Linked DNA regions of Homo sapiens: all the other regions are reported to be linked to region 1. Evidence: microRNA targets listed by miRTarBase, many of them from high-throughput screens and not tested one by one. Region 1 holds a microRNA gene; each other region holds the end of a gene's coding sequence. Distances are between the middles of the regions.

The links. The annotated mature microRNA hsa-miR-6736-3p reads UCAGCUCCUCUCUACCCACAG and lies in region 1 at 2,555-2,575, opposite strand. An mRNA with a match to its seed (bases 2 to 7 or 8) in the 3' UTR can be bound and repressed. Matches are read on the target gene's strand: a 7mer-m8 pairs with bases 2 to 8, a 7mer-A1 pairs with bases 2 to 7 and ends in A, and an 8mer does both.
Region 2: miRTarBase lists IGSF6 as a target of hsa-miR-6736-3p. Seed matches in the 3' UTR shown: 7mer-A1 at 2,895-2,901.
Region 3: the mRNA of SYAP1 is a reported target of hsa-miR-6736-3p. Seed matches in the 3' UTR shown: 7mer-A1 at 1,600-1,606 and 7mer-A1 at 2,062-2,068.
Region 4: miRTarBase lists WIPF3 as a target of hsa-miR-6736-3p. Seed matches in the 3' UTR shown: 7mer-A1 at 2,580-2,586.
Region 5: the mRNA of ANKRD50 is a reported target of hsa-miR-6736-3p. Seed matches in the 3' UTR shown: 7mer-m8 at 3,084-3,090 and 7mer-m8 at 3,793-3,799.
Region 6: the mRNA of SNAP47 is a reported target of hsa-miR-6736-3p. The part of its 3' UTR that is shown has no 7-base or 8-base seed match.

Annotation. Positions count from the first base shown.
Region 1 is chr1:145,848,033-145,853,106 of GRCh38, forward strand. It overlaps MIR6736 (microRNA 6736), which reads right to left and starts at 2,613; the gene lies at 2,555-2,613. NUDT17 (nudix hydrolase 17) reads left to right here. Exons shown (of 8, transcript NM_001012758.3): 7 at 80-232; 8 at 345-922. The coding sequence ends at 447. PIAS3 (protein inhibitor of activated STAT 3) reads right to left here. Exons shown (of 14, transcript NM_006099.3): 10 at 2,988-3,121; 11 at 2,739-2,907; 12 at 2,421-2,554; 13 at 2,200-2,237; 14 at 490-1,680. The coding sequence ends at 1,414. RefSeq lists an enhancer at 1,649-2,848.
Region 2 is chr16:21,637,112-21,642,185 of GRCh38, forward strand. IGSF6 (immunoglobulin superfamily member 6) reads right to left here. Exons shown (of 6, transcript NM_005849.4): 6 at 2,439-4,482. The coding sequence ends at 4,423. All of the region lies in intron 4 of METTL9 (methyltransferase 9, His-X-His N1(pi)-histidine), which reads left to right. It also overlaps the pseudogene RNU6-1005P. Among named protein-coding and RNA genes, the nearest start is that of IGSF6, 13 kb to the right of the region's middle.
Region 3 is chrX:16,759,556-16,764,629 of GRCh38, forward strand. It overlaps SYAP1 (synapse associated protein 1), which reads left to right. Exons shown (of 9, transcript NM_032796.4): 9 at 677-5,074. The coding sequence ends at 804. Among named protein-coding and RNA genes, the nearest start is that of TXLNG, 24 kb to the right of the region's middle.
Region 4 is chr7:29,914,078-29,919,151 of GRCh38, forward strand. It overlaps WIPF3 (WAS/WASL interacting protein family member 3), which reads left to right. Exons shown (of 9, transcript NM_001080529.3): 9 at 416-2,984. The coding sequence ends at 439. Among named protein-coding and RNA genes, the nearest start is that of FKBP14-AS1, 72 kb to the right of the region's middle.
Region 5 is chr4:124,664,907-124,669,980 of GRCh38, reverse strand. It overlaps ANKRD50 (ankyrin repeat domain containing 50), which reads left to right. Exons shown (of 5, transcript NM_020337.3): 4 at 1-997; 5 at 2,467-5,074. The coding sequence ends at 994. Among named protein-coding and RNA genes, the nearest start is that of ANKRD50, 45 kb to the left of the region's middle.
Region 6 is chr1:227,780,262-227,785,335 of GRCh38, forward strand. SNAP47 (synaptosome associated protein 47) reads left to right here. Exons shown (of 5, transcript NM_053052.4): 5 at 266-965. The coding sequence ends at 412. Among named protein-coding and RNA genes, the nearest start is that of PRSS38, 33 kb to the right of the region's middle.

The DNA.
Region 1 (5,074 bases):
AGGATTCGGGGACCTAACATATATGTAAGTTCTTTGTAAGCTACAAGGCACAGCCCCAACAGGAGTTGTCACCATGCAGTGCAGTGGAACTAGAGGAGGATGGAAGAGCCCGACCTCTGGTCCTGCACATGTCCACCCTCCTGCGGATGATCCCAACCATGGCAGAGGACAAAGAGAGAGTCAGCACTGGAACCAAGTTTGCCCTCAAGCTCTGGCTGCAACATCTGGGCAGGTAAAAGTGAAAAAGGACTGGAGAGCTCCACAGTACTGGGCTGGAATGGTCTAGTTTTTACAGGCACGGGGGAAAGCAGGAAAGGACAACCTCTCTTGGAATTCCTCCACAGAACACCCCCACCGTGTAAAAGTGCAGCTTACCTGGACCCAGGGCCAGCAAAGGAAGAATGGAACATGGACCCTCTTCCCCCAAACCAGGGGTCTGGAAAGTGAAGTGTAAAATCCCCTCCCTAGCCCATCTCCATGACACTCACAGAACATTCACAACCTTTATTATGGGTGAGAGCTTCACTACAACTTTAGAAATAAAAAGTAAAATTACAACATAGGTCCTAGGCCTTGGCGAGCCTGAAAAAGAAGATTGGGAAGGAGGGCACAGGGTCCTTCCACCTCCCTGGAAAGGTGCAGAATGAGCCAGGCCTAACTACAGGGCCATGAGCCTCTAGAAGCTTAGGGGGGAATAAGAAACACTGTGAACTTAGATATATAAATAGAGAGAGACCCAAGCAATAGGCCGGGCCTGACTCCCAGACCCCTGCAGATCATGGCTAAGGCCTTACATCCTCCTCTGTCATACTGGAGTAGGAGGCAGGGGAAGTCATCTTTGGAGTATTTTGGTTTTTCTTATTTATGTACAAAAAAGTCCACATCCACAATCCAAAATAAAGTTCTCTGTCCATCTCTGAAACTGCCTGTCTCAGTTTTTCCACCTGTCTGTTTGGCCGAAGGGAATGGAATAGACATGAAGAGACAATGGATGTGAAGAAGAAATAGAGCCATGGGTTTGGGTAATAAGAAGAGAGAGCATTTGGGGTTCAAGAGAGGTGCCCCTTCCCCAAGAGGCTCTAGACATAGTCAAGGCTGAGGGTTCAGCCCTTCTCCTAGCTCACATACCATCCCATTTGCCTCCCACTGCCTAGGTTAACATACCCAAAGGAATGTGCCACCATCTAAAGAACATTTCCAGAAACAGACCCCAGTGTCCTTAAAAAGAGGTTAAATATTAACCCTTTGGGTGCTGGCCTTGTCAGGCAGAGATGAGGCCAAAAGTAGGCATCTGTGAAGGTCTGTCTGGCCCTTGGCCAGAGCCCCCAGAGGGATCAGAGTAGCTGGGGTTGGGACTCCACAGCATACTTGCTCAGTGTTGGGGGACAGCGAAGTTTCCATAATCCAGGGAACTCAGTCCAGGGAAATGATGTCTGACCGACAGCCAGTCAAAGAGGGACCTGAGGGCAGGGGTCCTCCATGCCCCTCCCTCAAGGCCCCCCCAGGGGCCACAATGCTGCTGACACGGCCAGGAGGGGGCGCCGGAGTGGCGCTGCAGTGGGAGCTCCCCAGCGTGGGGGCCAGTGGGCCCAGAAAGTGAGAAGGGGTCCCTCGGTACTGGAAGAAGTGGCCAAGGGCATCCTGTTCATCTAGTGAGGTGATGACAGAGGGGCCATAGTGCTAGGAAGAATCAAGGGCATAGTTTAAGATCTCAATCCCGACTTCCCCACCTCCCAGTCACTCATCTCAGAAATGCCGTATGAGAGCAATCAACCCCTGTGGATCCGAAGGTATTCTCTTGAGAAGCAGGAGAGCCTCTCCCTCTTTCCCCTACTTCCCTACACCCTTCCCCTTTCCCTGCCTTGAGAGAGCTCCTCCAACTTGTTAGGTTCTTGGCTTTGTGGGCGTCTGAAATGTGTGGAATGTCCGGTTAGAGCAGGCATGGTGCTCTAAGTGCACACGGGGGTAGGGGTGAGTAGGCCAGGGCAGAAAAGTAACAGGGGATCTAGGAAGGAGGCCTAAGTAGGAATCTCAGGAACTACCAGTGGGGCTGAGGAGATAATAAGATACCTACACCCCACTGCCCTCACGGGAAAGCAGATTTACATCCCCAGAGATCATAAGAGAGGGAGGGGCCCCATCAGTGTCTAGAAAGGAAGCTTCAGAGATCTGAGACCTTCTGAAGAAAGAACCACTTACCTGACTCTCTGTCTGAAGAAATGAAAATAAATCTAAACCTGGCAGGAAAAGAAAAATCAAAATTAACCTCCTATCTGACCCCTTTACCACCAAAAGACAAAGCACTGTGGACTGTGGCCCCTTGCAGGAGAAGCAGGAGGCTTTGAGAAGGAACAGGGGTTCTGATGTAGCTCTGGGGAGGGTGTGGCAGTGCAGGGTCCATCTTATGACCCATGTCATACCTTGGATGTCGGCTCCCAGTGGGAAGGCAGGTGGGTACTCATGTAGTGGGAGACTGGACAGGAAATCCCCACCCAACGTGCCCATAGCAGGGCTCCTTAGCACCGAGGATGGCTGGTGGCCAGATGTCAGGACTCTGTGGGTAGAGAGGAGCTGAGGCAGCCAGCAAACCACAGATGCCCTCACCCAGCTCAGGTCCCCAGGTTCCCTCTCTGTCCCCTCCACATTTCTCTTGCCCCAGGCTTTGTCCAATGATCAGAAAGCAATCCTGACTTCTTCCCCTGTCCGTTTTGCTGTAGACTCAGCCTATTTTCTCATACCCTTTGCTTCCAGGTAGGGCCGGGATGGCAGCTGAGGTGACAGAACAGTGCTTCTTGGTAGGGGGCAGATCCTCCTCATCTGATGAGCTTTCTATTGTCAAGTCAATAACTTCGACCTTCTTCTTATTCTCTGATGGATCTCCCCCCTGGACTGGGCTGTACTGGAGGCCTGTGGGTATTAAGAAGACTACGTCTCAGAGAAGAGGCCATCCAAGATTTAGCTTAGCTGGGGAACAGGGGGTCACTCACCATCCAGCCCATACCCTGGCGGGGGGCAAACCTCAGATGCCTCCTTCTTGGGTTTCATTGGGCACCAGGATCCATCTTCCATGAATTGGATCTCATCACAATCTGAACAGGAACTAAGAATCTCCATAAATAAACTGGGGGAAGAGAGAGATGAAAATTCACGGGGCTGGGAGATGAGCAGAACAGTAGCCAGAGTTCTGTAACTCACCTTCCTGTATCTCAGTTTCCTCATCTGTAAAATAAGAACATTATCCATCCTACTGGACCGCTCTGAGTTGTTGGAATCAAATAACACAAGGTATGTAAAAGAGCTTTGCAAAGTAAGTAATAGGTTTTAAAATAAATACAATCTGAGGCTGGGTGCAGTGGCTCACGCCTTTAATCCCAGCACTTTGGGAGGTACAGGCAGGTGAATCACTTGAGGCTGGGAGTTCAAGACCAGCCTGGCCAACATGGTGAAACCTCATCTCTACTAAAAATACAAAAATTAGCCAGGTGTGGTGGCACATGCCTATAATCCCAGCTACTTAGGAGGCTGAGGCACGAGAATCGCTTGAACCCAGGAGGCAGAGGTTGCAGTGAGCCTAGACCACACCACTGTTCTCCACCCTGGGAAACAGAGCAAGGCTCTGCCTCAAAAAAAAAAAAAAAAAAAAAGCCGGCGTGGTGGCTCACGCCTATAATCACACTTTCAGAGACTGAGGTGGGTGGATCACCTGAGGTCAGGAGTTCGAGACCAGCCTGGCCAACATGGTGAAACCCCATCTCTACCAAAAATACAAAATTAGCCGGATGTGGCGGCACATGCCTGTAATCCCAGCTACTCAGGAGGCTGAGGCAGGAGAATTGCTTGAACCCAGGAGGCAGAGGTTGCATGAGCTGAGATCACGAGACTGTGCCATACCACTCCAGCCTGGGTGACAGAGTGAAACACCGTCTCAAAAAAAAAAAAAAAAAAAATCTGAGCACTTACGTGTAGTATAAGGAACAAAAGGAGCAGAGACACAGAAGTCCATAAACCATCTCCAAAAGGCACTGGGTCTTTGGCTTTCTAAACACTTGTGTAAAAATAAATAAATAAAGGCACTAGGGGCCAGGCATGGTAGCTCATGCCTGCAATCCTAGCACTTTGGGAGGCCAAGGTGGGAGGATCACTTGAGGCCAGGAGGTCGAGGCTGCAGTGAGCTATGATTGTGCTACTATACTCCAGTCTGGGCAACAGAACGAGACCCTGTCTCAAAAACAAACAAACAAACAAAAAGTGGGGGAGCACTGGGAACAGGAACCATAATGTAGATTCCAAAAAGAGGTTAAGACTAGCAAGATCAAAAGATTAGAACATCCAGGCCCTGAAAAGAACCTTATTGCAATGCTCAGTGGGAAGTCAGGTAGTTGTTATAGGTGATATATTATGACAGTTCAGTACACTGGCTCTGCCACTTAACAATATAACCTTGAGCAAGGCTCAATCTCTCTCGGCCTCAGTTTCCTCATGTGTAATGATACTACCTATCTCATAGGGTTTTTTTTTTTCTTTTTTTTTTTCTGGGTGAGTGTCACTAGCCAATCATAGGATTATTTCTTTTTTTGAGACAGGGTCTCAATCTGTTGCCCAGGCTGGGGTGCAGTAATGCAATCATAGCTCACTGCAGCCTCAAACTCCTGGGTTCAAGCCATCCTCCTGCCTCAGCCTCCTGAGCAGCTAAGACTACAGTCATGAGCTATTATAACATGCCTGGCTAATTTTTTTAATTTTTTATAGAGAGAGGGTCTACTATGTTGCCCAGGCTGGTCTCAAACTCCTAGCCTCAAATGATCTTCCCATCTCAGCCTTCCAGTGTTGGAATTACAGGTAGGAGCCGAGTCCATAGGGTTATTGTGAGGATTCAATGAGATAACTCATGCAAAGTGCTCAGCAAGATGCCTTGTATATACTAAGTCCTTAATGTTGCCCTCCCCCTCCACACACATGCACATACACACACACACACACAGACTGGTAAAAGGGATAGATAAGGTGAGAATTGCAGTTCATGTGAGGGGAAGTAAGCCATATGAATTAAAAACCCTGAAGGAGGTGGTGGCTA
Region 2 (5,074 bases), not on the chromosome of region 1:
AGGGGACCCGAGCGGGTTGCTGCTGCTGGCTCTGTTGGCCTGCTTTTATTCCCTTATCTGGCCCCACCAACATCCTGCTGATTGGTCCATTTTACAGAGAGCTGATTGGTCCATTTTACAGAGCACTGATTCGTCCGTTTTGACAGAGCGCTGATTTGTGTGTTTACAAACCTTTAGCTAGACACAGAGTGCTGATTGGTGCGTTTAGAATCCTTTAGCTAGACACAAGTTCTCCAAGTCTGCTACCCGGCTAGCTAGACACAGAGCGCTGATTGGTGTATTTATAAACCATTAGCTAGACACAGAGCACTGATTGGTGCGTTTACAAACCTTTAAGTAGACACAGAGTGCTGATTGGTGCATTTACAAACCTTTAGCTAGACAGAAAAGTTCTCCAGGTCCCCACCCGACTCAGAAGCCCAGCCAGCTTCACCTCTCAATGGCACTGGCTGCGGGACTTTGTGGCACCTAGCCTGGGCACTCCAGCAGCCCAGAGGGAGCTTGTCCCCTGATTAAGCCCAGCAGGCACCAGCCAGTGGCACCGAGTGCTGGGCCTGCTGAGCCCGTACACACCCGGAACCTGTGCTGGCCCGCGTGCGCTGCGCGCAGCCCGGCTCCTGCCCGTGCCTCTCCCTCCACACTTCCCCGCGAGCAGAGAGCCAGTCCGGCCTCGGCCAGCCACAGAGAGGGGTCCCCACAGCACAGCGGCGGGCTGAAGTGCTCCTTGAGTGCGGTCAGAGCGGACACCGAGGCCGAGGAGGCGCTGAGAGCGAGCGAGGGCTGCTAGCACATTGTCACCTCTCAATAAGCCACTCAGTCTATGGTAATTTGTTTTTGCAGCTCGAAGTAAAACAAGTTGTTTCAGTATTAATTCTTTTTTAATTGTCATAGGAAACCCAAATCTAAACAGAAAGTTACAGCTTAGGCTGGGTGCGGTGGCTTATGCCTGTAATCCTAGCATTTTGGGAGGCCAAGGTGGGCAGATCACCTGAGGTCAGGAGTTTGAGACCAGCCTGGCCAACAGAGTGAAACCCCATCTCTACTAAAAATACAAAAATTAGCCAGGCATGGTGGCAGATGCCTATAATCCCAGCTACTCAGGAGGCTGAGGCAGGAGAATCACTTGAACCCTGGAGGCAGAGGTTGCAGTGAGCCGAGATCACGCCATTGTACTCCAGCCTGAGCGTCAAGAGCAAAACTCCATCTCAAGAAGAAAGAAAAAGTTGCAGTTTAATTCTTTTCTGGATGCTCAGATAGCAGGACAATTAGTACTGTTGGGGTTTGTTGAATGGTCTTTATGGAAAGGGGTGAAGCTTCATGGTGAGGGACTGAAGTATGCTACATATCTCAATTTAAATGCTGAAGGAACATTTTTCTATAGAAACATTGTTCAATTGCATTTATAGAAGGCATTTGAGGGCCTACTGTGTACCAAGTGGAAATATAAAGATAAATGAGAATCACGCTTTTGCTCTTAAAACACAGAATAGTACACAATATAGATAGAAACAGATAATGGCAGGAAATTGTGGTAAGAAATATGTCAAACTAAGTACTGAAGAATTAGAGACGAATAGATCTGTTAGCCTGTGGGTGAGTTAGGGAAGGTTTCATGTTGAGGTGAGCTGTGTTTGTAGTCTGAAGCATTTTACCAGGCTGAGGGGAACAGCATGTGCAAAAGCATGAAGGTGTGAGTAAGGTTTGTGTGGGGGTGGAGCAAGTTCAGTATGACCCGAGGATAGTTTGCAAAAGAGGCCTTTGATTGTATAGTGTAGCACTCAGTAAATAGTGTTGGCGCCTGAAATCAATGACTGTACATCCCAAACTAATCTCAAAGCTATTTCCTTTTGGTGTGGGTTTGGTTTTGTTGTTAATTTTGAAATATACTTTTGAACACTGAAATCTCTGAAACTGCTAAGATCTCTAGAAGTGTAATTGGGAAAGAAACTTGCTTGTAGCTTTAACAAAATAAGAAACTCTTCCCAAATAAAACTTATTTTGAAGTTTGAAAATATATACTTTTGGTGAGATAGATGAATAAATGAATGAATACTGTGTATACACCAGATATTCTTATATAAGACCTAGAGGAATGGAACTCTTTGCGAAAGTATATTCCGTATTTCAGCTTCAAAATCAATCTTTGAAACACGGTCCTTGCTTACATGGGAAAGGCATATTGTGAGTCAAATACTAGTTTATCTGAGGGATTTTGTCTCCTGGTTAGACAATGAACAGTGTATTTTCAGTCCTGGAATTCAGTACCAAAATGTAATGACTCCCAGAAATGAAAAGCAAATGATCGAATTCAACACTTCTGTTCATTTCGATGGTATTAGTGCTTGCCCTTTTTTGCAGTCTGGCTTAGAAGCTCATTACTTTACCTGAGCTAGTGGTCTCAGAGTGGGGAAGTACACACTGCAGAGTACACAAGACAGTTTATTTTGGAATATGGCAGGAAAGTATTAGCATTTTTTATTTATATTGCTGCTTATGCCATTGTTTAATTTGTTTTTGTGTATAAGGTACAAAGGTACATTTTCATGCATATACCGTATACAAAACACATGTGGCCCCACACATATACACATGTGCACTCACGTGTACACACAGATACACACAAAAAAATGAGGTTCCATGCTGCCTCCTTTCCCCTGCCCATTTTTCTGGGCACATAGGATCAGGAAAGTTTGATATCACTGATTTAAACCATCAATGCAAAAACACTTTCAAAGGAATCTTAAAATATTTAACAATTCTAAGTTTTATAAAGAATACACCTTAGGCAATACCAGTTTAAAAGAAACACTTTATTTTATTTATTTATTTATTTATTTATTTATTTTTGAGACAGTCTTGCTCTGTCACCTAGGCTGGGGTGCAGTGGCGTGATCTCAGCTCACTGCAACCTCCGCATCCTGGGTTCAAGTGATCTCCTGCCTCAGCCTCCCAAATAGCTGGGATTACAGGTGTGTGCCACCAAACCCCGCTAAATTTTTTTGTATTTTTAGTAGAGACGGGTTTCATCATGTTGTTCAGGCTGGTCTCGAACTCCTGATCTCATGATTCACCTGCCTCAGCCTCCCAAAGTGTTGGGATTACAGGCGTGAGCCACCACACCCGGCCTAAAAGAGACACTTTAATGAAATAAACATAGTAGGTTGTAAGGTTGTAATTTGTGTCTAATAATGAATGCATACTTATGGGCACTTTAGATTTTTTTATACCAAAGTAGCTTTCAAAGGACAATTTATATCATGTTTTCTTAGTGAAGTGGTAATGAATTCCATAAATATCCTTGTACCATGCCTCCTATCTGACATTTCCCTCCTAAATTGGTTAAAAATCAGTATTATAGACTGTGCGCGGTGGCTCACGCCTGTAATCCCAGCACTTTGGGAGGCCATTTCAGGCAGATCATCTGAGGTCTTGAGTTTGAGACCAGCCTGGCCAACATGGTGAAACCCCGTCTCTACTAAAAATACAAAAAAAAAAAAAAAAAAAAATTAGCCGGGCGTGGTGGTGCGTACCTGTAATCCCAGCTACTTGGGAAACTGAGGCAGAAGAATGGCATGAACCCGGGAGGTGGAGGTTGTAGTGAGCCGAGATTGCACCACTGCACTCCACCCTGGGCAACAGAACGAGACTCTGTCTCAAAAAAAAAAAAAAAAGAAAAGAAAAAAAATCAGTATTACAAACGTGCTTGTAAAGTAGATGTGTTGCCCACATCTTCCCTGGTGCTGTTATTTGGCACAACACTGACATCTAGAGTCCGTTGTGGCTTATTTGTTCTGAAGTTACCTCTGTTTAACCTTCAGCTTTGGATTTTCTGTATTTTGGCTTTTATGGTCTTACTCTAGCCACTATATTATTCTCATTTTGCTGATAGCATGATGTAAGTTACTTTGCATACCCTGGCAGGCAAATGTGCGTTACCCCACTGCCCCATTACAACATCAGAGGAAATAACTTTACTAAGGTGCTTTTCAAAATGAATGTCTCTAACTCAAATTTTGTCACGTTGTCCCTCCCAACTTATTTTAATTGTGCCATGATTTCCACAAACCATAAAGGTGATTCTTCCACTCAAGACTGAGGCACATGGTTTGGCTTCAGATCTTCAGGATGGCAGTCATCACACATCTCATGTTGAATGAAACAGACTCAGGATACAAGTTTAAAATAGAATTTTTTTTCTTGGCAAATTTGGAAGGTATTTTTCAGTTGCATTTTGTTGGGTTTTAGTATTTTGGTAATGACTATTAGTTATAGTTTCCTTACATTCTGACATCCTTCTTTGTAGCCAGTTGTCTTTTCAGTTTACCTTTATTTTTTTTTAAGACCTGATGATATATGTTCATTAACACTGCCATAGCTCCTGGAGTTGGATTTTCAGTGACTTCATTGAAAATTAAAACGTTTCTATGGCCTTTCATAGTTGGAAAGTACTCTTCTGTTTTCATAAGTGTTGTTATCTTTCTCCTGCAATAATAAATAAATAGAAAGCCATGTTTAAGGTTATGTAACCAATGAAGCCAACTGCCAAGGAACATGCAAACCACTGGGCCATCTTGGATTCTGGGTCCTAAGTGTCCATATGGTAATCTTAAAGGCCAGATTACCGTTTTCCCCATCCGTATTTAGAGTAGGATGTGGGAACTGAAAAATACTTTTTTTTTTTGTTTGGATGCTACTGTCAAAATCGTGGCTGGGAGCTTTACAATTCTCACTTCTAAGACTGCTTTCAGGCCACATACCTCGGCCTTGTTGTTGAAAACATGTCCCAGCCTCAGAAAGAAAAATGATTTGTAATTACTCAGCATGGCATCTTAGTAATTAGACCACCTATCTTTATGTATTCATATATACACTGTAGGATGAAACGACTACTTAGACAATATTCTTTCCTTGGCAAAAATCCTTTGTGAAAGTTAGATTTTTAGCGCTTGCTTTGGCAGCACATACACTAAAATTGGAACAATATAGAGAAGATTAGCATGGCCCCTGGGCAAGGATGACACACAAGTTCGTGAAGCGTTCCATATTTTTTTAAAAAGAAAACAATTAAAGTAAA
Region 3 (5,074 bases), not on the chromosome of region 1:
ACCATGAGAGAGTCCAGGCTGACTTCAGACCCCGGTGTCTGTCTCCACTCTTAAGGAGACAGCTCTTTGTATAGTGGTTAAGCATAGACTGTGGAGCCTGCAGATGTGGTTCCATCCTTATATCTGTCGCTGTCAAACGGTGTGATCTTGGGCAAGTTGCTTAACCTCTCCTAAGTCTCCATTTCCCTATCTATAAGATGTGGCAAATAGTAATACCTTGTCCATGGACTGTTCCAAGGGTGAAAAGCGTGATACATAGAAAGCAGTTGGGCCAGTGCCCAGCCCAGTAAGTGCTCAATAAACATTAGCTGCTTTTGCTACCATCATCATCATTGGTAGTGGTAAAAATTAACTTGCAACCAAGTATTAATTATCATTTACCCATTTAAATAAAAGGAAATGCAGAGGCATAGGGAAAGCAAAATAACACCCAAAATATATTGATGACATCTGATACCTTTGCTTCTACATTAACAGATTTATCTTTCTAATTGTGTTTATCCTTGGTCACTGTTAAAATTTACTGAGTTTTTCTGAGCACACATAGTAGTGAAGCCTGAGATACTAAAAATTACAGCAGCTAGGACTTTACGTAGGTAATTGAGATGGACCGAATTGTGAACACCAGCATTATGAATTCAGAGAGAATCTTTTTCTTCTCCTTTGTTTCTTTTAGAGGATTCTGCAGATTGGGAAAAAGAACTGCAGCAGGAACTTCAAGAATATGAAGTGGTGACAGAATCTGAAAAACGAGATGAAAACTGGGATAAGGAAATAGAGAAAATGCTTCAAGAGGAAAATTAGCTGTTCCTGAAATAGAAGAATAATCCTTAACAGTCTGCAAACTGACATTAAATTCTAGATGTTGACAATTACTGAATCAGAAGGCATGAAAGAGTATAATTTTATGAAATTCAAAATTATTCTTTTTTCAAGTTGAAACTTGCCTCTTCTACTTTAAAAAAGTATATAGAACAGTTACTTCTAATAATCAGAAAGAGATGTTTTATAGAACATTTCTTTAATATAAAGTTAGAGATGTCTTCATAGGCAGTATGGCTATCTTTGCCACAGAAACATAAGTAAAATTTTAGAGTTCTGTTTTCCATGAGGTCAAAAATATAATTTATTCCTCAGTCATGGTTTTCTAAATATCTGTACTCCACATTCCATTTTAATTGATATGAGGGTGTTAAAGTACCTACTTAATGGGTTGATTACTATCAAAATGACCAAATTATACCAAAGAACTTAAGAGGAAGCACTTTCAGAACTATTCACTTGCCAGGTATTTTCTAAAATTCCACCTGAAAGCCAAAAGATAAAATAAATAAGTTGATTTTAATGATATAAGCATCACACAATTTTACATTAAGAAATACTGTGCAGGCCATGCGTGGTGGCTCAGGCCTGTAATCCCAGCACTTTGGGAGGCCGAGGTGGGCAGATCACCGGAGGTCAGGAGTTCGAGACCAGCCTTGCCAACATAGTGAAACCCTGTCTCTACTAAAAATACAAAAATTAGCCGGGCATGGTGGCAGGCACCTGTAATCCCAGCTACTAGGGAGGCTTTTGAACCCAGGAGGCAGAGGTTGCAGCGAGCTGAGATCGCGCCACTGCACTCCAGCCTGGGTGATAGAGTGAGATTCAGTCTCAAAAAAAAAAAAAAAAAAAAGCTGTGCGAAAATATTTGTTTTTCTCTGGGGCCTTTTCTTTCTTTTCTTTTTAAACTATACCAGAAATTTTACATCACAGTTTTTATACAAAGTGGGACCTTCCATACTTTTTGTATTACAATAACCTTCAGAAGCCCATTCCCCTTAAAGTCTGTTGTTCTTGTTTTAATCATCACCACATATAAATGTTTTAGCTTTGTCTTAAACTGTGAGTCTTCATAAAATTGTGTTCCTCCGAGTTCACCTTCTAGGACTTTATTGATTAATCCTTCTCTTTCTGCTATACCAGCAGACACATATTCATAGAATATGATTATTTTTAAAGAACAAGGTGAGGAGGCTGAGGCAGGAGAATTGCTTGAACCTGGGAGATGGAGGTTGCAGTGAGCTGAGATCACGCCACTGCACTCCAGCCTGGGTGACAGAGTGAGAGACTCCGTCTCAAAAATGAATGAATGAATGAATGAATGAATGAACGAACGAACAAGGTGGTTTAATGTCAGAAAACTTCCTAAGCATTTGCTCCCCAAACCTTTCATGTTTTTCAAGAAGCCTTTATTACATAAAGGGGAATAGAATTAAAATGTTTCTTTATAAGAAAAATATACATATTTGTGTTCTTGGCCCCATTAAAACTAGTCAGTAGTCCTTTGGCAAAGATATAGTCAACAAGAGAACTGGGTATGAGTCCAGGCATTACTCCTGTTCATAGTTGTGGATGCATGTGTCTGAGCCAGACTGTCTCAACTGGAGTCTCTTGGGTTATAGCAGTAAACCCGTGTATTCCATGAAACCACTGGGCCCATCATCAAAAGGTTTCCACTTGTGGTGCCACAGTTGCTTATTACTGAGTTTGGGTTCCAAGATGACTGGCAACTTCTGAAATAATCTCATTGAAGGAAAGAGTTTCATTTTTTTTTTAAAAGAGTTTGCTGGAGGAAAAGAAGCATGTTAAATGTTTTTAAGCAGCTAAAAGTCCTAGATGGAAGCATATCAGGATGTGTCGGTGCTTGGCTCTTAGTGAATGCACTAAAATTCTTATTGATAAATGTTGAATAAACACACACAAAAAAGTATCAGAGAAAGAGAAAAACCCTACAATGGCAATAGAGGTGTGTGACAGTTATTGCTATCAATTTTACATAATATCTCATTTAAAAACAACCTAATTATGCATTGCCTGTGAAAATAAAAGGATAAAATAAGATTTTGTACATACTGTAAGAATACAGTTGTGCTGTATTTTTATGGATTCATCAAGGAGTAAAATGTTCTGCTTTAGTAAATTATATAGGTAACTGAAGTGTTATTCCTTTAAAGAGCAAAATAATTTATCACCATGTTTGGTGGAAAATTTCTAAGTATTTATTACATGCCTAGGGGTTAGCCAACAAGATATACCAAGCATGAAAACCTGTAAAACTTAATAAAATGCTAAAATATGAACATCACACTATGGAGATTATGCCTCACTACTCAAAGAGTGTGGCTCAGGAACCAGTGTAGCTTGGCCATGCCCTGGCAGTATGTTGGAAATGCCTGCCCCAGACCAGTTGATGTTACTAAGAACGCCCAGGGGATGAGAATGGACTTTATTTACAGTTTGGGAAGCACTGGTCTAATATGCTCTCAGGGAAGCTGAGGTTTCTACTGCTTTTTACTTTTTACCCTTCCACTAGATGTCCTTTGCAGCAGTGTTTTTCTAGTTGGCATTACAGGTGTCTCCTCTGAGGTTCCAGTTATTTCTATACTACCAAAATTAAAAAGACCCAAGGGCTGGGCATGGTGGTTCACACCTGTAATCCCAGCACTTTGGGAGGCTGAGGCAGGCAGATTGCTTGAGCTCAGGAGTTCAAGACCAGCCTGGGCAACATAGGGAGACCCCTGCCTCTACAAAAATACAAATGAGCCAGGTGTGGTAGCCCACACCTGTGGTCCTAGCTACTTGGAAGGCTGAGGCAGGAGGATCGCTTGAGCCCAGGAGATCCAGGCTGCAGTAAGCCATGATCATGCCACTGCACTTCAGCCTGGGTGACAGAGACTCTGTTTCAAAAAAGGGAGGGGGGGCAAGTTTTTAGGGGGATGAGAAATATTCTTGGTAAATCGGGCATTTCTTTTTTTGTTTGTTTTTTTTTCTTGGAGACAGAATCTTGCTCTGTCACCCAGGCTGGAGTGCAGTGGCTTGATCTCAGCTCACGGCAACCTCCGCCTCCCAAGTTCAAGCGATTCTCCCACCTCAGCCTCCAGAGTAGCTGGGATTACAGGCAACCGCCACCATGCCCAGCTAATTTTTTTGTATTTTTAGCAGAGATGGGGTTTCACCGTGTTGGCCAGGCTGGTCTCAAGCTCCTGATCTCAAATGATCCGCACGCCTTGACCTCCCAAAGTGTTGGGATTACAGGCATGAGCCACAGCCTTAATTGGTAATTTTTGAAAAAAAAACTAGAGAAACATTGTTTCAGAGATAAAGCAGCAATTACACTTGTACTCCCAGTGATTTAAGATGCACTATTGTAATCAAGATGATTTGCTTTAATCAAAATATTGTTAAAAATAGGATTTCAGGACATTTAAAAGGTTTCAGCAGAAATCTTATGATTATGTCTGACTTGCAGTATTTTATTTGCCTCTTTGACGGCTTTTTTTTTTTTTTTTTTTTTGAGACAGAGTCTCACACTGTTGCCTGGGCTGGAATGCAATGGCGCAGTCTCAGCTCACTGCAAACCTCCGGCTCCCGGGTTCAGGCAGTTCTCCTGCCTCAGCCTCCCTAGTAGCTGGGATTATAGGCATGTGCCACCACACCCGGCTAATTTTTGTATTTTTAGTAGAGACAGGGTTTCGCCATGTTGGTCAGGCTGGTCTTGAACTCCCAACCTCAGGTGATCCGCCCGCCTCGGCCTCCCAAAGTGCTGGGATTACAGGCGTGAGCCACTGCGCCCAACCTTAATGGCTTTTTGGTATTAAAAACCAGGACTCTGAATGTGCATCAATAATTCAAATAATTTTATATAGTTACTCTTTCTAGTAATAGATACCCCCCTCCATTTTTAAGTAAAGATAAACATTTTTTAATTAGGAAAATTAGGCACATTTAATTTTAGCAAATTTAGTTTTTCAACTTTTTTTTTTTTCTTTTTTTTTTTTTTTGAGATGGAGGCTCACTCTGTTGCCCTGGCTGGAGTGCAGTGGCCGCAACCTCGGCTCACTGCAACCTCCGCCTCCTGGGTTCAAGTGATTCTCCTGCCTCAGCCTCCCGAGTAGCTGGGATTACAGGCGTGTGCCACCACACCTGGCTAATTTTTGTATTTTTAGTAGAGACGGGGTTTCACCATGTTGGCCAGGCTGGTCTTGAACGACTGGCCTCAGGTGATCCGCCCACCTCGGCCTCTCAAAGTGCT
Region 4 (5,074 bases), not on the chromosome of region 1:
GCTCTTTTTTATGGCTAGAGTGGTCAGTGCATGGGGTGGGAGCCCTGGGCTGGAAGTCTGAATGCCTAAATCGGTTTCTTGCTTTTCCACTGCCTTAACTTGGGGTCTCCAGCACGTTTTTTTTATTTCTCTGAGCTTCCTGTCAAGTGAATTGCTGATGATTGGTTCTATAAATGTTTATAAGACAGTATTAGGTCCTCACATACCATCAACTACATACCCCATTTCATCTGGTTTCCACCCACAGCCCCTTGGGTAAAAGTCAGCTCTTTGCATAGGCATCTCCCCAAACTTGACAGCCTTGCATGAATGAGAAGCTTCGGGGCCCAGCCTGTTTGGGGGGGTGGAGGAGGAAGGCTTTCATGTGCAAGAGTCTTCTAACTCCACCTGGTAATGTTCTGTTATGTTTCCACAGTTATCTCTAAAGACTCTTCGGTGAGAAGACAGATGAAGCGAAGGTCCTGGGGTTCCAGGTTGCAGAACAACATGTCAGACCCCACCCACCCCATGCTCAAGCTGTAATTCAGTTGGCATACAGGCTTGGAATTGAGAATTTATTTATTGTAAATATGTGATTTGCACGGGCTTTAAAGCAGTATTTTAATTGACTTTTATTTCGGTAATATTTTTTAAAACACCCCTCATTTTTCCATTTTTTGCATTGCATCTTGGCATTTGTCAGCACAGATAGAGCCCTGTCCCTCCACCTAGTGCCCACTCCATGACTGTGAATCTGCTTGCAGGCTGGCCCTTCCTAGATTCTGAACCGTTTGTAGAGAGTCCTTAGTTTGCAGGTAGCCCCAAAGTTATAAATATCCACAACGGCTTCTTATTGGCATAATTTCATATTCTCATCACACTAACTGCAAAATCAAACCAAATAATGCCTTATCAATGATGCAGCTCAGAGGAAGTAGCGTGTCCCCCACACCCAGACAGTGCCGCGCAGCCTCCAGGGAACGAGGTGCCATGTCTCGCTTCCATTTTGCAGTACAGGGAATTTTTTTTTTTTTTTTTTTTTTTTTTTTTGCTGCCTAATGTAATACATCACAAAGTAAAGGCAAGAGTGGGCTTGGCCCTCCGATGCCAACCACAGGGCCCCTTTTGTAACTGAATAATCCTCCAAGTAGCCAGTGCTCCTACTGTTTACAGTGTCCCTCGTGCCCAAGTCTCTGTCACTTTCATCCTGTTCCCTCCAAGTTCCCAGTCCCATCCCAGTAGCCAGCTTTATGAGATTTTGGTATTTCTTCCCTACAGATTAAAAACATACACAACTCATCATTATGCTAAACTACCAGTTGTATCTCAGAGGTCTCCCCTTCTGCCCTTGCTTCGAGTGTGGACTTCCATGGAAAATATGACATGAAAAAGTGTAGAACGAAACATCGTGTGAAATACCTGCCACAAATACCTAGTGCCTCACTGCCCCCATCTTAGGATCCTTGGAGCCACCCGTCAGGCAAAACCTAGCTCCCTTCTGAGCTAAAGGAGAACCTTGCCTGACAACTCCACATTCATTCCCTTGTGGTGGGCACCTGTCTGTGGGGAGATGTGTGCAAGCTCAGCCACTCTGAATATGGAAAAGGTCAGGCCGGGCTGGTCCTGCTCTTCACTCCCTCTTCTTGATCCTGTAGGGAGTGGAAATGTGTTTTTGCTTGCTGCCTGACCCCTGATGTTCCCCATCTTTGGTCGGGGAAGACTGTGACAGAGGAAGGAGAAAAAATAGAAGGAAACAGACTGATCCCTGGGCTGTGCTCAAAATAGCTGCCCTTTAAAGGAAATCAGGCAGGGAGGGGAGGGAAACCAGCGAAAAAGAAATTTGCTTTGCAACAACCCACGCACACATTCACCCCTGAAGTATATCATGAACAGACCAAGCCATCCAGAAAGGCAGCCGGTCAGGAGGGTGTGGGCAAACATGACTGCATCTGCCTCACTGTTGTCTGGAGTAACGACTCAGGTGGTGTCCTGCAGCAGTGCTGTGCTTTCTCATTCCAGATGGAAGCAAGTGAGCCAGGGTCAAATTCCCTTCTCCAGGGGAATGAATCAAGCCCAAACTGTAACAGCTAAATAAGTAGAAGTTTTTGCAGGTCATCAGCTCTGGGCATAACTAATTTGTTTTATTGGTTCTGGAAGATTTCCAAAAAGCCAGAATTTATTATTATAACAGTGTCCACTCCACTGCCCTCACAGTTGTGTAAAATAATTATAGAAGTTTTAATGATCCTGATTAAGAAGACCCTAGACAAAGGCAATTCCACCTTCAGAGTAGACTGCCTGCCCTAATGAGGTGTTTAGACATTCGTGTCTCCTATGGCTGGGATGGAAATTAAAATAACACTATTTAAGGACAGAGCGGGCCAGGAGCAGTGGCTCATGCAGGTAATCCCAGCATGGGAGGCTGAGGTGGGTGGATTACTTGAGGTTAGGAGTTCAAGACCAGCCTGGCCAACATGGTGAAACCCTGTCTACTCAAATACAAAAAATTAGCCAGGCATGGTGGCTCACACCTGTAATCCCAGCAACTTGGGAGGTTCAGGCACAAGAATTGCTTGAACCCTGGAGGTGGAGGTTGCAGTGAGCTGAGATGGCACCACTGCACTCTAGCCTGGGCAACAGAGCGAGACCCTAACTCAAAAAAAAAAAAGGACAGAGGGGAGGAAGGAGCAGAAACCAAAAATGGCAATTAGGGAGAAATCTCAGGAATGTGGCATCCCATCTCCCCTTGAGACCTATCACTGAATTCACAACCCTTCGAGCTCATGCTGGTGCACTGAGTCCCTTGGGCGCTGTAAAGGTTTAACCCCTTGACTGTAAACTCAGACTTAGAGACATCTGAGTCACACAGTCCCCGCCATTGTCACATATTCTCACTGACACTGCAGTCTGTGACTCCTCCAATGTTTCACGTGTATTTTATATTTATTGATGTCTCCTTCCGCAGATTCATTTCTTTGTACTTAATAAACTTTAGTAAGTGGAAATGCTTCCAGTCGTTTCCTTGTTAAAACCCATCGGTGGTCACCAGTATCAATCTAAACCAAACATTTTTAAGGATCAGGAGAAGTTGAAGTTCTAAGAATGATAGAAAAAAAATAGATATTTACATGGATACGGTGCTTGCTGTAACATACTGTGTTAGAAACAGGGCCTTTCTTTCTTGAGCTAACTAGCCTAATTGGTATTTGGAAAAAACAAGCAAGAAAAAAAAAATTTCTCAGGTGCATTTTTTAAAAAGTAGATAACACTATATTTATTCAGTTTGATTAACACAGAATGGGCAGTGTATTGCTTATAAATTCTGCTAAATTGTGTTGAAATAGAACAACCTTCCCTCTACGTGCACTTAGTCCCCACTCCCAACTCAGCAAACCCCCCAAAAAAGCCTCCTGTAGGAACAGAATCATCTTGAATCCCCCTGTAGTATTTTAAGGTGGACCTTTGGGAACAGGGTTCAGGGGAGGTGAGATTTATCTGCTAGGCAAGCTATCTCAGAGCTAGTGCTTAGAAGGCAAACCAGGATCTGAATCTCCATTTTGCCTCTTACAAGTTGCCTCTTACAATCTGTGCCTCAGCTTCCTCATTTGTCAAAAGGGGACATAAATATGTACCCGAGTGTATATTGGTGAAGATTCAATGATGTAATACACATGGGCAAGCCCTCAACCCTTGGATCACAACGGAGCCAGTGATGCACACCCTGCACCCCGGGGAGCAGCCAGTTTGCTGGTTCCATGCTTGGGCACAAACAGGGCTCTGCTGGCTGCATCCCAGGCACTTCATTCAGTATTTGCTGAGCTACTCAGACCACACTTCACTAACTCTGCTGCTGGATAACAATGAGAGAGCAGTCATTAAAATTCATAGATGTTCCTGAAATAAATCTCATCTAGAAACTAATTTCAAAGCTGGTTACTACACACTTTGCATCAGAATTAGTTAAGGGGCCGTTTTATTGCTCTCTTATTGGTGGAGGTACAGATTGGCTCTTTGATGGCCAAAAGGGCCAGTCTGAATGGGGAAGAAAAAGTAAGGGCCGAAGATAATCTACAAAGTGGATGATGAACTTCAGAGTCACATTGAGCATGGCCGTGGTGAAGTAGCTAGAAGTGTAAGCACCTTTTATGGAGCTAAGTGTGAGAGACGTGCTTCCTAGAGAGGGAGCAAGTTAATGGGAAGGGCCATGGACTCCAGAAGCAAGTTCCAAATTCTCAGACGGTGCCCCGGGAGGCTTCAGCATCCTCCACCCACCCATTCTGTTATGGGTCGAATTGTGTCCCCACAAAAATCCATAGGTTGAAGAAGTCCTAACCCCCAGTACCTCAGAATGTGACCTTATTTAGAAATAGGCCCATTGCAGATATCGTTAGTTAAGATGAGGTCATACTGGATTAGGGTGGGCCCCTGATGCGATATGACTGGTGTCCTTATAAAATGAAGAAATTGGACACAGACATAGACACAGGGAGAACGCCACATGAAGATGAAGGCAGAGATAATCAGGATGCTGCTTCTATGGGTCCCAAAGTGCTGAAGATTGCCAGCAAGCCACCAGAAGGTGGGCAAGAGACATGAAACACATTCTTTCTCACAGCCCTCAGAAGGAACCAACCCTGCAGATGTCTTATTCCTGGGACGTCTGGGCTCCAGAACTGTGAACCAGGAAATTTCTCCTGGTTACGCTGCCCAGTTTGTGGTACTTTGTGACGGCAGCCCCAGCAAAAGAATACAGGCTTTGTCACCCAGAGCTTTGCAGGAGGGTACAATGTTTATGAAAAGAGAGCTGGGAATAAAATTTCAGAATTAGCAGCTCCTTATCATGTAAACAGAGCAGTCATCTACCCTGACCTTGAAATAGGTCATTCATTGCAGGTGACTAAGTCCTATCTTCACGAGCAAGACATTCAGTTGCGTTTTACCTGTCACAGTGGAGAGTCATGGAAAGCAAGCTGGCATTTCTGGGTCACAGGAGTGAAGAGAGCTGGCTTTTTCCCTAAGTGGCATCCTCTCCTGTTGTGGCATTGCTGATGCCTTGGAATCAAGATGTCTGGCACAGAGTACCAGCCACTCTGAT
Region 5 (5,074 bases), not on the chromosome of region 1:
ATATGGTGCATCTAGTTTGAATGGCTGTTCCCCATCTCCTGTTCACACAATGGAGCAAAAACCTCTACAGTCATTGTCTTCAAAAGTGCAGTCATTAACAATTAAATCAAATAGCTCTGGTAGTACTGGTGGAGGGGATATGCAGCCTTCGTTACGTGGTTTACCTAATGGGCCTACTCATGCTTTTAGTTCTCCTTCAGAATCTCCAGATTCTACAGTTGACCGGCAGAAGTCATCACTGTCAAATAATTCCCTGAAAAGCTCAAAAAATTCATCTTTGAGAACTACTTCATCTACAGCAACGGCTCAAACAGTGCCAATTGATAGCTTTCATAACTTGTCATTTACAGAACAAATTCAGCAGCATTCATTGCCACGCAGTAGAAGTCGACAGTCAATTGTTTCCCCATCTTCCACAACACAGTCCTTAGGACAGAGTCATAATTCACCAAGTAGTGAATTTGAGTGGAGTCAAGTAAAGCCCAGTTTGAAGTCAACTAAAGCAAGTAAAGGGGGGAAATCAGAAAATTCTGCCAAGTCTGGATCAGCTGGGAAAAAAGCGAAACAAAGTAATTCTTCACAGCCAAAGGTTTTAGAATATGAAATGACTCAGTTTGATAGAAGAGGACCTATAGCCAAATCCGGGACTGCTGCACCACCTAAACAAATGCCAGCAGAATCTCAATGCAAAATTATGATACCTTCAGCTCAGCAGGAAATTGGTCGATCTCAACAGCAGTTTCTTATTCACCAACAAAGTGGGGAACAGAAGAAGAGAAATGGAATAATGACAAATCCAAATTATCATCTTCAGAGCAACCAGGTTTTTCTTGGTAGGGTTTCAGTCCCACGAACAATGCAAGATAGAGGGCATCAGGAAGTGTTGGAGGGATACCCTTCCTCAGAGACAGAATTAAGCCTTAAACAAGCTCTGAAGCTTCAGATTGAAGGTTCTGACCCTAGCTTCAACTATAAAAAGGAAACACCATTATAAAAGGTAATATTTTGTCAACATAAAGAGTAAAAAACAAAAGTAGAGTTCCCTCTACTTGGAATGCTCTTTTCCTTGATCACAAGGCCAATTCCCTCAGTTAATCTCTACTCAGATGTCATCTGGGCCAGACCTGCCTCATCACCCCTTTACATCAGAATTCTCCTGCCTCTAGCACTCCTTTCCCCCTTGCGTGCATTATGTTATCCAAAGCACTTACTATTTAAAATACTTCAGATGTTTTCTTTATTATTTTTCTCCTCTGAACTAAAAATACAACCTTTGTGAGGGTAGGGTTTTCTATCTGTTCACTACTGTATTTCATGTACTTGGAATAGTGCTTGGACCTATGGTAGTTTCCCAGTAAAAATTTGTTGAATAAGTGAATGAACTAATGAATGAATGAATGAATATACTACTTATGGATCCCAGATTAAGAATTCTTTCCTATTCAGTTATGTCCTCCTTTTAAAAGAATTTTGATGGTGTCAGAGGGAGGGGCTGTTTCAAACTCATCTTTTTGGTTTGAATGCAATAATGTCTGTAGCACATAGTAGATAGTAAATATTAATTTCATTCCTTTTCACTCAGAAAGAAGTCAAAAACTTAGTAGAAGGTAGTTTTTATGATGACAGATCTCTTGAGACTCTTCTAAGTAATGTTTTCACACATAAGGCATAGACGTGAAAAATGATAAATGGATGTTTTTGCAATATTGGTATTTAGGGCACTTTATACCTGGATAAAATAGTCATATTTGTTAAATAAATTTTTTTTTCTCCTTCCTGTAACAAAGGATACTTCATTAATAATATAGGGGATGTTAGTGGGAAAATAGGTATGTAAGTTTTATATTTTAGATACTTTTTCAGAAGCTCATTTCCTGTATTGGAGATAAATCTGAAGATTTTATTAGGGGTCTTTCCTAGCATACACTGCAGCTATATTTATCCCACTTTGCTTAATGATTTTTCTTCCTCTAACAAAGTTATATATACTCTTTCCTTTTTGCTGCTTCTGTCTTTGTAAATATATTTTAGGGATATAATAGGTGAAACACTATTATAGATAAATTCCTCATATATTCTAATAATAAACAGCCTTCAATGTGAATCTAGGGGTGACCAAATGTCATTCAAAAATAATTTGAATAAAGTACTTAATTCAGTCCCCAAATGCAATTCGTTTTTAAAATAATTAGTTCTGATGGTGCACCCTTTCAACTCTCATGATATCTGTTTTAAAGGCAAAATATAAATACGTATTAAAAATGAAACACCAGAATTAAGGTAAACATTTTGTGGAATTTAAAAAGTGGCTTATAAGTTAAATAATAGTTAAGTCTGCTTTGTGCTTTGCATGGTAAATATATAGATAAAGATATATAGAGGTAAATGTATTAAATAAAGTTTTAAAATGATATGTAGCTGTATAATACAATGTAGAAAATAATTTTTTTTTAACTTTTGCATTAGTTTCCTATTCTGTGAAACAGAAGACATTGTGATGGAGTGGTTCTTCAGCTACTGGATGGAAACATATGCCTGTTGATTTGCTGAAAAAACAAAAAAAATGAAGAATGTGATCTCTGCAGTACAGTTACCTTAATTACTGTAATGTGCCTAAATAGTAAGGCTGCCTTCTCAATGTAACCCTCTGTGCTTAAAAAATTTCATTTTGTGTGCTTTGTATTCACTACACAGGAATAAGCACTTTTTAAAAATGCAGATACATACTGCAGTTCCCTGATAAAAGCTGAAAAGAAAATTTGAGTATTTTAAGTTAAGATGTGATAAAAAATGTGCATGTGCCATAATCAAATATATATGAAAAGGCAGTGTTCCTTGTATTTATTTTTTTTTCTTTTTGTGGCAAAAGAAACTTAAACATACTGTTTCAGTCACATTGCATTGTAGTGTATGGCCTGTTTCTTGTATCTTTAAAGACGTTGCTCAATAAAACAAATCTTGCAACTGTTCTATGTTCACTACACCTTCAGCATTGGATAAAAATCATTTTCTATATAAATATCACATTGAAATGAAAAAATGATTTCTTGGCAGTTTAAAAAAAATATTTTATAGTAGTTTAGGGAGCTGCTTTAAGTAGTTTAAATCTGGATTTTCCCAGTAGAATTCTTCTCATCTCTGGCTAAACATGTCAGAACAAACAACCAACCAGTCTGTAGGCAGAACAAAGTCCTATTTCATCCGCTGGGATACAATTTCATCTTCCATTCACTTTGTCATTCCACCTCTAAGAAGACAGACTATCATTCCTGAGGCATGAAAATTCTCAGGGACAAAGCCATGCCTCAGTCACATGTGTGTGCAGAGAGAAATGCACCTGTCTATCTAAGGGTAGATTTTTGATCCCTGAATAATTCATTGACTAAACTGACCTCTTCCTCCTGGCTAAATAAATTAATTTTGCTGGCTTCTCTCTCAGCGGTTTCTATTTTGTAAATTGCTGCATGACCAAAATAGCCCCACTCAAAATCAATTGGATTAATTTTAATGGTTTGGTTGGATGAATATTCTGGATGAATATAAAATGTGCTGCCCTTCACAGATGACACCACTCCCCTGTCAATCATAGCACATGTGTACTTTTTATTGTTACTTAATAGTGATGGATTTGCACTTTTCTATCCTCATACTCTTTCCTGTTTTCTTCTTTGTACAATTGCATGCAGGAGGGCTGGATGCCAGGGTTAAGAGAGAAATTCATGACAAGGAAGGTAAAATTGGTTCAAATGAGCATGTGTCCCACAGCCTTAGTCTCCTTACTCTTAAATCAGTGGAGCTGTAGCTTAGATGGGTCGTTTATATGTCTGGAAAAGTTGTCATAACAGTTTAGAAGCCAAGGTTGTGGATTTGATCTTAGAATGGGCCTGTTAATCTTATAGAACCCAGAAATTCTGTTCTTTTCATGTACTGTTGATGAGGAATGAGGAAAGAGAATTTGGAGATTCAGCACAAAACCATTGCTACTTCTAGAACAAAATCTTTAGAATATGTCCTAATAACAAAGGTCAGTAATGTCATCTTCATATATGAAGGACACATGTGATACATTGTTCGTGGAAATAGAAATGTATAATTATGATAAATGTTTCACTTGAATCTTATTGTAAGGCTTTTCTTGCTTTTATTTTTTAAAGTCAGCAAAACTCATTTTGTCTGTCATCTATAAGTCATAGTGAGGACTACGAGATAAGTTGATAAGTTCAATTGATATTAAGGTGACATGGCAATATTAATAACTCAAATGTGAATGTTTCAAGTATTGAATTCTTGTCCCTATGGGACATTTATTAAATAAAATTAATGGGACTCTTGCAAAGTAGCCTTAAAAGTGTTAATGAGTCTATTAATAAATATGAACACATACTATTATTAGAACCAACTTTACTCATATCTCAAATACAGTACATTTACATTACTGTAGAGGATGAAGCTCTAATTTCTATTACATGTAATTTTCTTTAGAAAGAGAACCCTGAAAGCTGCCAGTTTTTCTATTAACTTTGAATTATTGAAATTGTATTTATTTAATTTTATTGTTTTTACAAAATTGCACCTTGTGTCCAAAGGGCGAAGATATGACATTGCATAAGGGATTTATGTTTTTCAAAGAGCTAACTGTTTTCATATCCATACTATATACACTTGAAGCAATTGGTAGGAAGAGAACCTATTGGAAAAATACGATTTTCAAAAGTAAGTATTCCTCGGGATGTTTTTATATAAATTATGTTTTGGAATAGAACATAAATGACTTTGAGTTAGGATAAGGATGATAGGATGGGTGCTGGAGATGCCCTGCCTTGCTTATTTGTTTCTGTGGGGGATTTAATACTATAAATGAAAATGGCTTCTGCTCCATTAAAAAGTAAAAATTGTCCTCCAAATATAAAACTCCTTAATAGATATTTTTGAAATTAAAATCTTTAAATTTTATAAATCAGCTGTTGCCACTACACAACTATGATGGCATGTGCTTATAACATTTTTATAACATTCCGTCTGTGTCTATTCCCTAAATATCATGAGTTTATAATAAGGAAAGTGATAAAAATAC
Region 6 (5,074 bases), 82 Mb from region 1:
TGTGGCCACTGCACCAGGCAGGAGGTGCGGGCAGGCAGCTGGCAGGAGGTGGGGCAGGCACCTCATCTCATCAGGCCTGTACTGGCAGAGGCAGAGCCATGACCTGACCCTGGTGCTGGGCTGCCGGCTCCCTCCTGCTGGCTCGCAGATGGCATCACCCAGGTGGTAACGCAAAGGCTCTTGGGTGTGTGAGAGGGGGAGATGTTGTCTGTGCTAGAGTTTGCAGAGATGGCAGCCTCTGCTGTGATCTTGTGCTTCTCCCCAGATCCTGAGGAGGATGAAGGGGCTGGCCCTGGAGGCCGAGAGTGAGCTGGAGAGACAAGACGAAGCCCTGGATGGCGTTGCAGCAGCTGTGGACAGGGCAACCTTGACCATCGACAAGCACAACAGGCGGATGAAGAGGCTGACCTAGGGGCAGAACGTCCCTGCATTCCTGTCTCACCCTGCACATCCCGCTGAGATGGAGGGCTGGGCGGCAGTGCCAGGGCTGCAGAGGCCTGTGGCCCTCCGGAGTGGTCTTCCTCTGGATGGGGCTGCTACTGTGGGGCTGCTTCTGCACCAGGGGCCTCCCCAGGTGTGCACCATGCCTGCCTCCCACTTGGCTGTCCCTGCTGCTGGGCAGGACCCGGCCACATGTTCTGCGGATGCTGCAGAAGTGTGGACCATGGCGGGACCCCAAGGACACTTGGCACAGGCCTGGAAGAGGCCGCCCTCGTCTTGTCTCGGCTCCCTTTCATGGACAGACTGGCCTTCTTAGCTGTACTATAAATTTGTGAGTGAAGTTAGAGCCCAGCTCACTTAGCCAGCTCACTTTGAGGGCATCCTATAAACACCCAACTGTTCTTTTATCGTCTCGGTTTTAGCCAAAAGTGAAATTAGCATGACTGCATCTTTCAAACAAAAATATTGATTTCTGCTTTTAGGGCCCCGTTTCCATCCAGAAATAAAGGGAAATGCTGGCTTCAGAGTGGTTTTTGAAGATGGGTGCCAGTGTTTCCACCTGGTGCCTTGTGTCTGGGTCAGTGGCCACTCCCTCAGAGGCCCTGGGGTAGGTGAGCATGGCCTCTGGCGGGACTGCGCGTCACATTGCGGGTGGTGCCCCTTTGCCATGCTGCTTTCAGATGCCCCGTGCAGGGCTGCAAGGAAGGGTGCGGGCACATGGGAGGCGAGTCCCAGGATGGTGCCACGGCCCAGCCTGTGGGGCCTCCACGCTGGTGCACCCAATGCCCAGTGGTGCTGCCTTCCCAGGGCTGCTCAGTGAGCCTCACACACAGGGGCCCTCGCAGCTTTGCAGCCAGAAGCCCCACGTTGAGATATCCTGGGCGTGCTCCCTCCAAAGGTTCTGGGGAGGACCCTGCACGGCCGCCTGCCACAGGTCCAGGGCCCAACCTAATCCAGGATGGCCTGGTCTTGATGTCACTCACTGAGAATGTCTGCTAAGACCCCAGTTCCACAGGAGGTCCTGCTCTGAGGCTCCAGCTGGACTAGGGGCTGCAATGCCAGTCGCCAGAGCCAGTGCAGGTGCCTGGCAGGAAAACTGGGAAGCAGCCTCTCTAGAAAGCCACAGCCCAGGGAGCTCTGATTTTTTTTTTTTTTTTTTTTTTTTGAGAGGGAGTTTCACTCTTGTTGCCCAGGCTGGAGTGCAATGGCATGATCTCAGCTCACCACAACCTCCGCCTCCCAGGTTCAAGCGATTCTCCTGCCTCAGCCTCCCGAGTAGCTGGGATTACAGGCATGCGCCACCACACCTGGCTAACTTTGTATTTTTAGTAGAGATGGGGTTTCTCCATGTTGGTCAGCCTGGTCTCAACCTCTCGACCTCAAGTGATCCGCCCGCCTCAGCCTCCCACAGTGCTGAGATTACAGGCGTGAGCCACTGCACCCAGCACTCTGATGTTATTTTTTGTTTGATCTGGGAAATTGTTTTCTGCTTTTTCTTATTTGGTTTATACTTAGCAGCCTGCAGAAGGAGACCTTGCCCTGTCCCCTCTGGGGTCCTTCCACTAAGGCCACAGGTGAGTGAGTGCTCCCAGCCTGTCTGGACACCCCAAGGAGGCCAGTGTTGGCCCTCAAGCCTAGCCCAAGGCATGCGGACACCATGGCCCCCCCTCCTGTCAGTGCTGGGAGCCGGCAGCAAGGGCTCACCATGCCTGCAGCCACCGTGCAGACCCCCATCAAGCCTGGAAGAGGCTGCACCCTGTCCTCAGGACCTCACAGTGTGAGTGGGGTCTCCTCTGTCCCTGACCCCTCGCTGTTCTCAGGACTTCACAGTGTGGGTGGGGTCTCCCCTGTCCCTGACCTCTCACTGTCAGCAAGTCCTTGCAATATCAGGTGAGGCCTTTTGTGTCACTTGACCATTCCTTGTCCACTGGACCTCAAAACTAACATGATATACAGTAGTAAGAATGTAGAAACTTTCCCACTAAAATCACGACCAAGGCCCATACATCCGCTCTCACCATCTCCTTTCAGCACTTTAAGCTCTAACAGATGGAACAAGGCAAGAAAAGGAAGTTAAAGTTTAATGATACTGAAAGAAGAAACAAACTCTCTTTGTTCACAAATGACATTTTCCAGGTAGAAAGTGTAAAAAGGGATCAAGAAAATCCCCTAGAATAATGAACAACTATTCAAGATTTCAAAATATACAAAAGTTAATCACTTTCCTATATACCAACAATGGATGAGTGGATTTGAAGTTAAAAACAAAGTACTTCTACTTTAGCACCCCCAAACAATAAAATACTTAGGTACAAGTCTAAAAAAAGTGTACTCTTTCTATATATATGAGAAAAACTACAAAACCCTGATGAACAAAAGAAGAACCAAATAAATGGAGAAAAATTCCATGTTTATGGATAAGAAGACTCAGTATTTTCAACATGTTTGTTCCTTCCAGCTTGATCTATAGATTCAATGCAATTTCAATCAAAATCCCTGCAAGTTATTTTGTGGATATTAACAGATGATCCTAAAGTTTTTATGGAGAGGCAAAAGACCCAGAATAATCAATTCAATACTGAAGGAGAGGAGCAGAGTTGGAGGACTGACGCTACCTGACTAGAAGACTTACTACAAAGCTGCAGTTACCAAACCAGTGTGTTATTGGTAAAAGGAGAGACAAATAATAGAACAGATTAGGGGACCCAGAAATAGACCCATATAAATATAGTCAACTCATCTTCTGAGAAGATTCAAAGGCACCACAATGCAGAAAATGGTCCCACAATGGTGCTGGGACAACTAGATGTCCGCATGTGCAAAAGAAATCAAACAGACCCTACACCCTAAACAGAAATTAATGAAAAGGAGCTGGGCGCGGTGGCTCATGCCTGTAATCCCAGCACTTTGGGAAGCCAAGGCAGGTGGATCACTTGAGGTCAGGAGTTCGAGACCAGCCTGGCCAACATGGTGAAACCCTGTCTCTACTAAAAATACAAAATTAGCTGGGCATGATGGCGAGCACCTGTGATCCCAGCTACTCGGGAGGCTGAGGCAGGAGAATTGCTTGAACCTGGGAGGCGGAGGTGAGACAAGATCACGCCACTGCACTCCAGCCTGGGTGACAGGGTGAGATTCTGTCTCAAAAAAAAAAAAAAAATTATTCAAAGGGATCATAGACCTAAAAGTAAAATGCAAACTAGAAATGTCCTGGAATATATCATAGGAGAAAATGTAGGTTACCTTAGGTACGATGATAGCTTATAAATTTTTTTCACTCATTTAATTGTTAATATCTGTGGGTACATAATAGGTATTTATGGGGCACATGAGATGTTTTGATACAGACATGCAATGTCTGTATTTTTAGTAGAGACAGGGTTTCTATGCTTTTTTACAAACAATCCAATTATACTCTTTTAGTAATTTTTAATGTACAATTTATTGACTATAGTCACCCTGTTGTACTGTCAAATCAAAGGGCATATTTCATCTTTCTAACTGTATTTTTGTACCCATTAACCATCCTTGCCTCCTCCCCAAACCTCCACTTACCCTTCCCAGCCTCTGGTAACGATCCTTCTACTCTGTATCTCCATGAATTTGATTGTTTTAATTTTCCACAAAGAAGTGAGAACATGTGAAGTTTCTCTTTCTGTATTTGGTTTATTTCACTTTATAACATAATGATCTCCAGTTCCATCTATATTGTTGCAAATGAGAGGATCTCATTCTTTTTATGGCCAAATAGTGCTCCATTGTGTGAATGTGTATATACTTTCTTATCCATTGGTCTGTTGATGGACCCTTGGGTTGCTTCCAAATCTTGGCTATTGTGAACACTGCTGCAACAAACATGGGAGTGCAGATACCTCTTTGATATACTGACTTCCTTTCTTTTGGGTATATACCCAGCAGTGGGACTGTTGGATAATATGGTAGCTCTCTTTTTAGTTTTTTGAGGAACCTCCAAACTGTTTTCCCTAGTGGTTAATTGGTGGCTAATTTACATTCCCTTGGTAATGGCTTTTTAGATATAGCATAATAACAAAGCCATGATCCATGAAACAATAAATTGACAAGCTGGACTTTATTAAAATTTAAAACTTAATGCTCTGCAAATGACACTGTCAAGAGAATGAAATGACAAGCCACAGACTGGGAGAAAATATTTGCAAAAGATGTCTGACACAGGACTTCATCCAAAATAGAAAAAGAACTCTTGAAGCCAGGCATGGCTCCCAACAACTCAGGGGGCTGAGACGGGGGAGGATCCTTTGAGGCCATAAGTTTGAGACCAGCCTGGGCAACCAAGCCAGACCCCCATCTCTAATAACAATGCTAAAATCTAAAAAAAAACTTTTCTGAACTCTTAAAACTCAGCAAAAATTAAAACCCAAGTAAAAGTGGTACCCAAAGACCATAACAAACACCTCACCAAAAGATATACAGATGGCAAATAAGCATCTGAAGAGATGTTTCACATCGCATGCCATTAGGGAACTGCAAATTAAAACAAGGAGGTACAACTACACACCTGCTAGAATGGGCAGAATCCAAAACACTAACACCACCAGTTGCTGGGGAGGACATGGAGCAACAGGAACTCGCATCCATTGCTGGTGGAAATGCA